Linked DNA regions of Homo sapiens: region 2 is linked to region 1. A link means that fine-mapping ties the variant in region 1 to the expression of a gene that starts in the linked region. Tissue or cell type: whole blood. Region 1 holds a variant in brackets; the other region holds the start of a gene. All regions are shown on one strand. Distances are between the middles of the regions.

The links. PIP is the estimated chance that this variant, and not a neighbour inherited with it, causes the effect.
Region 2: it holds the start of ADGRL1-AS1, and the variant in region 1 is fine-mapped to the expression of ADGRL1-AS1 in whole blood (TOPMed, PIP above 0.99). The same link has a PIP of 0.9 or more in gastroesophageal junction, lung, subcutaneous fat, sun-exposed skin and tibial nerve.

The regions. Positions count from the first base shown.
Region 1 is chr19:14,182,433-14,188,390 of GRCh38, reverse strand. ADGRL1 (adhesion G protein-coupled receptor L1) reads left to right here. Exons shown (of 23, transcript NM_014921.5): 2 at 4,694-4,858. The coding sequence starts at 4,789. Among named protein-coding and RNA genes, the nearest start is that of ADGRL1, 21 kb to the left of the region's middle. The variant T/C (reference allele first, on the strand shown) is at 4,119.
Region 2 is chr19:14,133,762-14,139,719 of GRCh38, reverse strand. It overlaps ADGRL1-AS1 (ADGRL1 antisense RNA 1), which reads right to left and starts at 2,568. Exons shown (of 3, transcript NR_045214.1): 1 at 2,497-2,568. It overlaps ASF1B (anti-silencing function 1B histone chaperone), which reads left to right and starts at 3,131. Exons shown (of 4, transcript NM_018154.3): 1 at 3,131-3,372. The coding sequence starts at 3,264. RefSeq lists enhancers at 2,486-2,645, 2,142-2,768, 2,846-2,985 and a silencer at 3,316-3,365.

The DNA of each region.
Region 1 (5,958 bases):
GAGGGACTGCCTCTTCCGTGGGTGTCTTTGTGCCCTGACTGGCACCAGGCTGTGCACAGCACCCTCTGATGGGGCCTGTATTGGCCCAGCGTGTACGTGTACTGCTCTCCTTACCAGAACCCTGCAGAATAGCAGCGCAGAGGGAACCAGGGCCAGGGAGGTGAGGAGACCAGCTCAAGGTCACACAGGGCATGTATAAGGCAAAATTGGGATCTAGACCCATGTGGATTCGCTGCCCACACAATTTGGCATCGAGTGGCTTCCCTGCCATTTATTTATTTATTTATTTTTATTAAGAGAGGGTCTTGCTCTGTTGCCCAGACTGGAGTGCAGTGGCAGGATCATAGCTTACTGCAGCCTTGCAAACTCCTGGGCTCAAGTGATCCACCCACCTTAGCCTCCCAAAGCACTGGGATCACAGGCACGAGTCACCGTACCAAGCCAGCCATTTTTACTCCCTCTAACCAGTTCCTCTGCTCGGATGCCTGTTGCAGTGGGAAAGAAAGCGCTTGGAGACCCTGGGAGGGGAGTATCCTCAGCTTGGGGACACTGCCTCCCCTGAACCTTTCTGTGGCTGGGCAGTTGGGGGAGAAATGAGGAAGTTGAAATAAGGAAGCCACTCCCCATTCCCAAGGTAACATGCTGGAAAATGATTTGAAAGTGACACCGGCCATGTCTAGTCACAGATGTGGGGGAGATGCGGATAGGGGCTGGTGGCGGCGGCGGGGTAACACGCTGTAAAATCATCTGAAAGTGACACTGGCCGTGTCTAGTCAGGGATGTGGGGGGAGACGCGGTTGGGGGCTGGAGGTAGCTGGGGGGGATTTACTGAAGAAGCTGGGGCAGTGGAGAGGGAGCTGGTATCGGGAGTGGGCATGAGAGGGGAAGCGGGCAGAGAGCTACAGGGCTGGAGAGGGGGTGTTCAGGGCTGTCTTGCAGATATTATCTTCCCATTTCCCACGTGAGGAGACTGGGGTCTGGACCAGGTGTCCTGCCCTGTGGGGATCTTTATTTATTGAGGGCCTGTGCCGATTTGTTTTATTTATTTATTTTTGAGACAGTCTGGCTCTGTTGCCCAGGCTGGAGTGCAATGGCACAATCTCAGCTCACTGCAACCTCTACCTCTCAGGTTCAACCAGTTCTCGTGCCTCAGCCTCCCGAGTAGCTGGGATTACAGGCACCCGCCACCACGCCCGGCTAATTTTTTGGTATTTTTAGTAGAGATGGGGTTTCACCATGTTGGCCAGGCTGGTCTCGAACTCCCACCTCTGGTGATCCACCCGCCTCGGCTTCCCAAAGTGCTGGGATTACAGGCACGGGCCACCGTGCCCAGCCGTGTGCTGATTTGTAAGGGCCTCTCTCAAGAAGCTCGTGTTGATAAAAAGGTAATTTCAGGTGCTCACTTGAGAGCTGTGAATTAAAAACAGGGAAAAGGATGGCGGGTGAGGGCAGCAGGCGAGGACTGTTTTGTTTGCAGGGGGTCAGGGTAGGTCACTCTGCTGGGGTGACCTTGCGGCTGAGCCCTGAACAATGAGCAGCCGCAGCCGACATGCAGGGATCCTGCTTGGGGACTGGAACTGGAATGTTGAATGTTTCAGGAACAGGAGGGAGGACAGAATGGGGCTTGGAGAGCTTGGTGGCACCAGTTCACCCACAGCCTCTGGGCTCTAGTGAGGAACTGAGACCCCAGCAGAGACCAGGGGGTCAGTTAATGTTCGGATCAACATCATCATGTGGTCCCTTAGCTCTGAGTGAAGGGCGGATTGGGAGGCGGGCAAGGAGGCCAGGACAACATACAGGTGACATAGGATGGTGCATGGGCCTGGGTGCTGTGCTTAGAGCCAGAAGTGGGCAGGTCGCGAGGTACTTCAGAGGCAGAGCCCACAGGAGTTGCTGATGGCTTCCGTGAGGGGGATGACAGGGAAGGTGAGGAATCAAGGCAGAGTCTCAGCTTTGGGATCTGAGATTCATTCAACAAATAATTAATTCATTGCCACGTGCCAGGCCTATTCTAAAAGTTGAGGATATGAAGACAACAGTGGTGATGGCCTCACGCAGTAATCCCAGCACTTTGGGATGTTGAGGCAGGAGGATCTCTTGAGGCCAGAAGTTCATGTTCAGCCTGGGCAACATAGCAAGACCTCATCTTTGCAAAATAAAATAAATTAGCTGGATGTGATGGTGCATACCTGTGGTCTCAGCTACTAGGGAGGCCGAGGCGGGAGGATCACTTGAGCCTGGGAGGTGGAGGCTGCAGTGAGCCATGATTTCACCACTGCACTCCAGCCTGAGTGACAGAGCAAGACCCTATCTCTAAAAAAATAAAAGTAAATAAAAGTTGGGGATACGGCCACCATGAGCAAAACAGTTCAATGATCCCTGCCCCATGAAGAGGACATTCTATACACCAGGTGAATAGTTCTATCTGAGCAGAGGCCTGAAGGAGCCAGCCATGTGGACAGTGGGTTGGCAGAAGCTACAGGTGGAGGAAGCAACAGGTGCAAAGGCCCTGGGGCAAGGCCTGCTGTGGTCCAGGAATAGCAGGAGTGGCTGGAGCAGAAATGGGGTCAGGGAGCTAACTGGGCCAATTACAAGGGTTTTGGTTTTCAGCAGGGAAATGGTAGTGGGGGCTCTGATGAGAGATTCCAGGCTGGACATAAGAGATTTGAAAGTGCTGGCTCAATGATGGTACTGAGAGCCCAGGACAGCCTGAGATGGGACAGGCTGGGATGACAGCTGGATATGACAGAGCAGGGGTTCCCACGCTTCAGGGCCTGCCTCAGAGAATGTGTGTTTCTGGCCAGCACAGTGGCTCACGCCTGTAATCCCAGCACTTTGGGAGACTGAGGTGGGAGGATCATTTGAGGCCAGGAGTTCAAGACCAGCTTGGGCAACATAGCAAGATCCTGTCTCTATAAGACATTTTAAAATTAGCTGGGCGTGGTGGCGAGAGCCTGTGGTCCCAGCTACTCGAAAGGCTGAAGTAGGAGCATCACTTGAACCCAGGATCTGGAGGTTGCAGTGAGCCGTCATTGTGCCACTGTACTCCAGCCTGGGCAACAGAGCAAGACCCTGTCTCTTAAAAAAAGAAAGAGAGAGAGAGAATGTGTGTTTCTACCAAGTTCCTGGCAAGGCTGATGCCAGTGTGCTGGGACCACACCTGGAGAACCAGGGTGTAGATAAAGCAAAGAGCTGAGGACAGACATTTGAGCGTGCAAGCCTGAGAGGATTTGGGGAGACTGAGGCGGGGAGAGAGGTGAGAAGGAGCAGCCATAAGGCAGGAAGAAACCAGTTAGAACCGAGTCCTGGACTGGGCACAGTGGCTCACTCCTGTAATCCCAAAGTTTTGGGGGGCCCAGGCAGGAAGATCCCTTAAGCCCAGGAGTTTGAGATCAGTCTGGGCAACATAGCAAGACCTCCTCTCTGCAGCAAATTTAAAAATTAGCTGGTGGTGCTGGGCGCTGTGGCTCACGCCTGTAATCCCAGCACTTTGGGAGGCCGAGACGGGCGGATCACGAGGTCAGGAGATAGAGACCATCCTGGCTAACACGGTGAAACCCCATCTCGACTAAAAATACAAAAAATTAGCCGGGCGTGTTGGTGGGTGCCTGTAGTCCCAGCTACTCGGGAGGCTGAGGCAGGAGAATGGCGTGAACCCAGGAGGCGGAGCTTGCAGTGAGCTGAGTCTGTGCCACTGCACTCCAGCCTGGGGGACAGAGCACGACTCCGTCTCAGAAAAAAAAATAAATAAATAAATAAATAAATAAATAAATAAATAAATAAAATAAAAATTAGCTGGTGGTAGTGGTGCAAGCCTGTGATTTCAGCTACTTGGGAGGCTGAGGTGGGAGGATTCCTTGAGTCTGGGAGGTTGAGGCTGCAGTGAGCTGTGATTATATCATTGCACTCCAGCCTGGGCAACAGAGTGAGACCTGGTTTCTAAAATTTAAAAAAATAATAATAATGAAAAAAAAAACTGAGCCGCTGTGCCTGGGGACAGAGCAGGTGGGGAGGATGGCAGGGGACAGCACACAATTCTCACCCCTCCCCCATCTCCCCTGGCCCCCCCAGAGGGGGAGGCAGTGTCCGCCTCCCACCCCGCCTGCCTGTCTCCAGCT[T/C]ACCCTGAAGGTCCCCCAGAGAGGAAAGAGGGGACTCGGGCGTCCCTGGTTCCCGATCTGTGGCGCCAGCTGGATTCTAATTAGCCACCAGAGCTTGAGAGACAGGAAGCAGGGGGCTGGGGGCGGGGGCTTGGATTTCTGCCCAAGACGGGGAGGCTGCAAGTTGGGTTGCAATGAGTCCCTCACTTGGGAGGACACTCATTACCTCCTTGCTCATGGTGAGGATGCGAGTAGGGGAGATGAGTGGGCAGGGTCAGGACAGGGGCATGGGGAAGAGGCTTCCAGAGGGTCCAAGGCCTGCCTGGGATCTCCCCGTGAGCTGTCCCAGGAGGTTCCAGTGGGGAAGAGTTGGCAGTCTCTTTGCCCAGAGGTGCCCAGATAGCTGGGTCTGGCTGCTGGGTGTAAGGGTGGGGGGTGTGGTGTGAGCTGCAGACCCCGGAGGGGGCCCTACAGATAGGGCTGGCTCGAGGGACGTGCTGGACCTCAGCCTCTCAGAGCTACTCAGCCACCAGCAGGAGGAGAGGGGAGCGGCCTGGAGGCCCTATCCCCACCTCAGTCTCCCTGTCCTCCCCCAGGCTGGTGGTCCAGGCCGTGGTGCCTGCCAGGTGATGTGGGGCAAAGCCCCCCGCACAGGCCACTGAGAGCTCCGGACACGCACCCGGCTGCCACCATGGCCCGCCTAGCCGCAGTGCTCTGGAATCTGTGTGTCACCGCCGTCCTGGTCACCTCGGCCACCCAAGGTAGGTGCTGCTGGGGCCGGGGAGGGGCCGCGGCTCCCAAACCCTTCTGGGGGGGGCAGATAAAATGTTGAAAACCCTCCTGATCACTCAGTAAAGAATTACAGCCCCCTGCCCCGCCCCAGACCTCAGCTGGAGCAGGCCAGTGGAAGACTCAGGGGTAACACACACCCCAGTGCCACCAAGAGGCCCCTGGACCATCCTCTTACCTCCAACAAGTCGGCTGGGCCAGGTTGGTAGGGGCCATCCCGCTGTGGCCCCTGGGACCAGGACAGGCCTTCTTGGTGAGCCGATGCTCCTCTCTCTGTCTCTCTCTCGCTCTCTCTCTCTCTCTCTCTCTCTGTGATTACATCTTCGAGGCTCTCACTGGGAAGAAGGCTTAATTAAAGCATGCCCGCTGACGTTTATTTAAAAACAACTAATTACCCGGCTCGGCCCTATGCCGGCCCTAGGATCCTGCACACGCCACTATTAGTGCCCCAAGCCTGCCCGCCCACCCTCACCGATTACTCGATTACTGGCCCCGTGACCAGCCCAGGCCGGGGGCAAGGGCGGGATAAGGTGAGAGGCCAAGAGAAGAGGCCAGTAGGCCCGGCCCCTCACTCTGGGATGTGCCCCCTGCCCACCCCGACATCCCTGTATGAAGGGCATTGGCGGGTGACTCTGCTCCCTCTGGCCCTGCCCTCTGGAAAGCTCCAAAGGTTGAAGGGACACGGTTCAGCTGGGCCCCAGGGCCTTGGCACTGCCCCGCTGGCCAGCAACCTCACTCCTCTGCTGCTACGTTCTCTGCCCATCCAGGTCCTGCCCCATAGCCCCAGCTGGGCCGGGAGGGCTGCCTCCACCCCCAGACCCATCTGAGCCAGCCTTCCACCCCCGGCCCTCCCTCCCAAGCCCGGGAAGGCTAAAATTAGATGAGGAGGCAGATGGTGCTGGAGGAACACATGTGAAATGTTCCCCCCGCTGGGACTCAACTCACCCCAAAAAACCCCAAGGGCCTCCCTGCCATACCCCTGGGGTACCCACCCAGATCTCTGGAAAGGCTCAGCTCTGTCACCGTCCCGCACGAGTGCCCTCCCGAAACCTCGTACAGCAGGTGGTCACTT
Region 2 (5,958 bases), 49 kb after region 1:
TATTCATAAGCAATCGAATTACATTTGGAAATTAGATTTTCTCAAATCACAAATATCCCTAAGTATGCAATGATTGCCAAGAAATCAAGCGAATCATAAATGTGAGTTTCCTTGAAGCCAAATAATTTCAAAAGAATAAAAACAAAGCTTTCGATTTTTTAACAGCTAAAAAGAATTTTTCTTAACTTAATGTGAGATGTAGATACCAAAAATGGGCTAGGCGCTGTAATCCCAGCACTTAAGGACAAGATAGGTGGACTGCTTGAGGCCAGGAGTTTCAAGACCAGCCTGGGCAACAGCGAGACCCTGTCTCTACAAAAAATTTAAAAAGTATAAGAGGCAGGGCACGGTGGCTCATGCCTGTAATCTCAGCACTTTGGGCGGCCGAGGTGAGTGGATCACCTGAGGTCAGGAGTTTGAGACCAGCCTGGCCAACATAGTGAAACCCCATCTTTACTAAAAATACAAAAATTAGCTGGGTAAGGTAGCGTGTGCCTGTAGTCCCAGCTACTCGGGAGGCTGAGGTGGGAGAATCGCTTGAAGCTGGAAGCAGGAGGTTGCAGTGAGCTGAGATTGCGCCACTGCATTCCAGCCTGAGTGACAGAGCAAGACTCCCTCTCAAAAAAAAAATAAAATAAAATAAAACAAATTAGGCATGGTGGCACGCACTGGTGATCCCAGCCACTCGGGAGGCTGAGGTGGGAGGATCACTTGAGCCCAAGAGTTCCAGGTTATAGTGAGCCACGATTATGCCACTTGCACTCCAGCCTGGGCAACAGACCTCTATTAAAAAAAAAAAATCCCACAGGAACTGGATTGTTTAAAAAGAAAAGGAAAAGGAAAACATACTAGCACAGTGAGTGAGTCCTAGTGAGCCCACAGAGGTGACTGGGTAAGAAATACTAGTGCCTTGGCTCAGTGCTGTTCAGGCGTACGGCCTGTGAGTTTGAACACTGTCCAGAGCACCCTTAGAAAGGCCTCTCTGGGGAGAGGACATTTGAACAGAGACTTGAATGACAAGAAGGCATAAGCCATGCCAAGAGCCTAGGAGAAGAGGTTCTGGGCAGAGGCTTTGCACTGGGAGTGGCTTGTCAGAATTTTAACAAAAAGAGGGTTACTTAGCCTGGTTTGAAGTTGGAGCTGGGTGGTTAACAGGAGACAAAGCATAGAGTTTCAAAGACAATGCTCTCATCCGGAGAAGTGACCTGGTCAAATGTGTTTCTGACCTTCGCTGTCCAGTAATACAGGAGCCACTTGTCACACGGGCTCAGGAGCACTCAACTGCGGCTATCAAGACAGCTAAACTGAACTTTCTTTTTTAAAATTTAATTTTAATTTTTAGAGACAGGGTCTCACTCTGACACTCAGGCTGGAGTGCAGTGGCTGGAGCATTCTGGGCTCAAGAGATCCTCCTGCCTCAGCTTCAGGAGTAGCAGACACTACAGGTATGCACTACCACACCTGGCTTATTCTTTTATTTTTTGTAGATATGAGGTCTTGTTATGTTGCCCAGGCTGATCTTGAACTCCTGGCCTCAAGAAATCCTCCATGACCAGCCTCTAAAATTACAAATAATAATAAAAAAAGATATGGCCGGGCACAGTGGCTCACGCCTGTAATCCCAGCACTCTGGAAGGCCGAGGCGGGCGGATCACTTGAGGTCAGGAGTTCGAGACCAGCCTGGCCAACATGGTGAAACCCCGTCTCTACTGAAAATACAGAAAAAAAATTAGCTGGTTGTGGTGGTGGGCACCTGTAATCCCAGCTACTCAGGAGGCTGAGGCAGGAGAATCGCTTGAACCCGGGAGGTAGAGGTTGCAGTGAGCCGAGATCGCGCCATTGCACTCCAGCCTGAGTGACAGCGCGAGATTCCATCTCAAAAAAAAAAAAGTGGCTTCCAAAAAATGTTAATTTTACACCTAATTTTGGTGCGCGGCTGGCATTATTTTTCCACTGGGCAGCACTGATCGCCCGTGGGGGCAGAGACTCTGAGACCTGGAGTCTCCCAGGCCGGGGGCGACGGCCCAGACGGGAGGCGGTGGAGAGAAGTTTCCGGATGTATTATGTGGTCATGAATCATGTCAGGGAATTGCCACGGCCCCCGTTGAATGGGGAGGCGCTGCCTCGGGCGCTGAGTAGCAGAGCCCGGACTCTGAACACTGGTCTGCCCCCGAACTGGAACTCCCATTTTCAGTACCGTCCGCTTGAAACCTCCCAAGAGCCCTCAAGGGGGCGAGAGAGGGATCCAAACCCCTCGGGGGCGAGAGCGGGATCCGAACCCCTCGGGGGCGAGAGCGGGATCCGAACCCCTCGGGGGCGAGAGCGGGATCCGAACCCCTCGGGGGCGAAAGCGGGATCCGAACCCGGCCGGATTCCCGAGGTCTGAGCGCGCCTCGTGACCGCCACTCCGAACGTTCGCAACGTTCACAACGGACTCCCGCGCCGCTGGACCTCAAGGGTCAGGAGCCACTCAGAAAAGCTCCAGGAAACGCTCACCTGTTGACAGACGCTGAGGCCGCAAACGCTCCTCCTCTCTCTTCACACTCGCCAACACCGCGGTGGCGCTCGACTTCCGCTTCTCTCCAGCGAATCCCCAGCTGAGCCTCCTTCTGCTCCCGCCACCATTACCAATCCAGCCAATAAACTCTCAGAAAACCCTCTTTATCTCCGCCCCACTCCCTCCTGCCAATCACTTCGGGTGCGAGCACCGCCCTTCCCGCCTTCTTTAGCGAGCGCCGCGCGCCACCGCTCGGCGGGTGGCGGCGCTGCGCGCTGCGGGATGCATCTCCCGGAAAAGCGAGGCGAGGGGCGGGCCACGCCGGTGCGGGAACCCTCAGGATTGGCCAGAAGGAGGCCGGCGCTGTGACTCCGTCCATTCCCGCCGTTGACATCCAAGTCGGAGACGCTGGGGATTGGTTTCCAGCGGACACGCTAAGAAGCTTGGAGATAGTTTCGCCCTCCTCACACGCTGCGGAGAGGGAGCTCCGCTGATTGGTCCGAGGAGTCTGGGCGCGCGCCGATCGGCGCTCCAGGACTGGCTGAGGGGGTGCGCGCGCCGCCAGGGAGCGTTGGCGGTGATTGGCCAGAGGGCGGAGGCCGGCTATTTGAAGGCGGCGCGCGGACTAGGTGCGCACTTCAGTTCTCGGAGAGAAGAGGCGGGAGTGGACCTGGTCAGCCCTACCCCACTGACCCCACCGGACCCAGGCGCGGCCTCCGCCACAGCCACAGCCCCTGCCCCTGCTGCGGCGCGGCGAGGCGAGGCGATGGCCAAGGTGTCGGTGCTGAACGTGGCGGTCCTGGAGAACCCGAGCCCTTTCCACAGCCCCTTCCGGTTCGAGATCAGCTTCGAGTGCAGTGAAGCCCTGGCGGACGGTGAGGCTGGGCCTGTGCGGGGACCCCCACCCCCGGGCCGACCCCGGCCTCCCCTCAGAGAACCGCTCCCATGGCCAACTTGATCTCCCCCATGAAACCCCTCGTCCCCCTTCCGCCAACCCCGATCTCCCCCAGCCCGCCAGTCAACCGGATCTCCCGGTGGAGACCCCCCGCCACCAGCCAACACGGACCTCCCCGTGACCTCCTCCCCCACTGCCCGCCTTGACCTCCCGGGTGGAGACCCCCCGCCAGCTAACTCGGACCTCCCAGTGGCCTCTTCCCCCACTGCCCGCCCCGACCTCCCCATAGAGATTAACCCCCTCCAAGCCCCATTTCCCGCGTGGGGAACCTCATCCATCTTTTTTCTCTGGAGCTCTTCCTAGGTACCCGTTTTCATGGGGAGACCTTCTCGGCCTCCATTTCTTAACCCACGGAGATCTTCAGCCACCGTGGTTTCCCTGTGGCAAGACCCCCGCTTCAACCACCCACCCATTTTTGCCCACTTATTCCCTCTTTCCTGTAGTGAGATACTCACACCTCCCATTTTCCCTCTGGAGACCCCCAATATCCAGCCCCTTCCCATTTTCCCCGGGGGAAATCCCAGCCATCTCCTATTTTCCCTATGGAGACCTCTCACCCAAGCTCCTCTCTCCTTGCCGTGAAGACCCTCCCCTCCAGTAACCTTTTTTTCCTGTGAAAACCCCTCAACCCCTTTTCAGGACCTCTCTCAACCCCATCTTCCCATTTGTGTCCCACCAGTCCCCTCCCCAACCTGCCAATATTTCAATAACCCCACGCCCACCAGTTGCTGCCGCTTTTCTGCCCCAATGCACATACCCTGGAACCTGGTTTCTCTCCTTCGTTGGGGCCCAACCCCCCTATGCTTGAGCTCTCCCTGGGAAAGGATGCTACCGTCTTTGAGGGGAACTTTGTCTCCCCAGCTCCCCTTCCCCACCTTTCTCTGTGGGCTTGGATAAACACACTGAGATCCGAGGGGTGGCATAGCCAGGCAGGCATTAGCTAGTTCTCCAGGTTTGCCCACCCGTTTCCAGCTGAGTTACTGCAGCAATTTTTCTGTCACTTTTTCTTTCTTCTTCTTCCTCTTCTTTTTTTTTTTTTTTTTTTTGAGACAGTCTCACTCTGTTGCCCAGGCTGGAGTGCAATGGCACGATCTCGGCTCACTGCAACCTCCACCTCCCGAGTTCAAGCGATTCTTCTGCCTCAGCCTCCCGAGTAGCTGGGACTACAGGCGCCTGTCACCACGCCCAGCTAATTTTAGTATTTTTAGTGGAGGCAGCGTTTCACCATGTTAGCCAGGTTGGTCTCGAACTCCTGACCTCAAGTGATCCACCCGCCTTGGCCTCCCAAAGTGCTGGGATTACAGGCGTGAGCCACCGTGCCCCGTCTTCTTCTTTTTTTTTTTTAATATAGCTGGATAATCAGTGCCAAGCTCCCGTTGCTTTTGATGGTCTGACCTAGTCTGGGGGGTGGGTGGATTGGGCTGAGCTGTGACGGGCTCCAGCTTCAAACAGTCGGCTGGAGCTTGGAGGTCACAGCCTCCTGTACATCTTTTCCAAGGTGCTTCCGTAGATGTACTTATTAATCTGTGTGACTTAAAGGTGGGCATGGCTCTCATCTCACAGATGAGAAGACAGGAGCCACAAAACGCAAAAGACCTTTCAAGTCAAGGCCTGTACAAATCCAAAATCTAAGGTCACCTAGGGAGCCTTGGCACCACTAACAGGCAAGTCCTGCTTTCAGGAAGAAGTACTCCATTAGGCCATTTTTCTACTTGGTGGTTGAAAGAGAAAAGGCAGCAGCCGAGGAGGTGGTGATCTGGGGGCCTGTGAAGCCAGGATATGCTAACTAGTGCCTCTCGGGGGCAGGTAGGTGTTTTGCCCTCAAAGCTGGTCGCCTGGACTAGCTTGGAGCTGATAGAGTGAGATGTGGATGTGCTTTGGGTAGGCCAGTGGGTCTGTCTCTCCCCGGTCTCTCTCGCTCCTTTTTAAATTAAGGAGTCTACTTGTGGCTAACTATAGAATATGCCGAGTTAAATCCTTTCTGGAACAAGGCAGCGGGTAAATAAATAAATAAAGTGTAGAATGACGCTGTGGAATAAGATTTAATTTAAAAGCCAGGAGGAGATGGAAGGAAGTAATAGGTTGAGGGATTCCCAGCTCCCCGACGGCAGGAGATCAGGTTTCAATCAGCCTGTTTGTGTTCCTTGCATTTAAAAATGGTTGTGGCCGAGCGCGGTGGCTCACGCCTGTAATCCCAGCACTTTGGGAGGCCGAGGCGGGCGGATCACGAGGTCAGGAGATCGAGACCATCCTGGCTAACACGGTGAAACCCCGTCTCTACTAAAAAACACAAAAAATTAGCCGGGCGTGGTGGCGGGCGCCTGTAGTCCCAGCTACGCGGGAGGCTGAGGCAGGAGAATGGCGTGAACCCGGGAGGCGGAGCTTGCAGTGAGCCGAGATCGCGCCACTGCACTCCAGCCTGGGCGACAGAGCGAGACTCCGTCTCAAAAAAAAAAAAAAAAAAAAAAAATGGTTGTGCGGTCATTATCTGGTACTTCTACTCCTA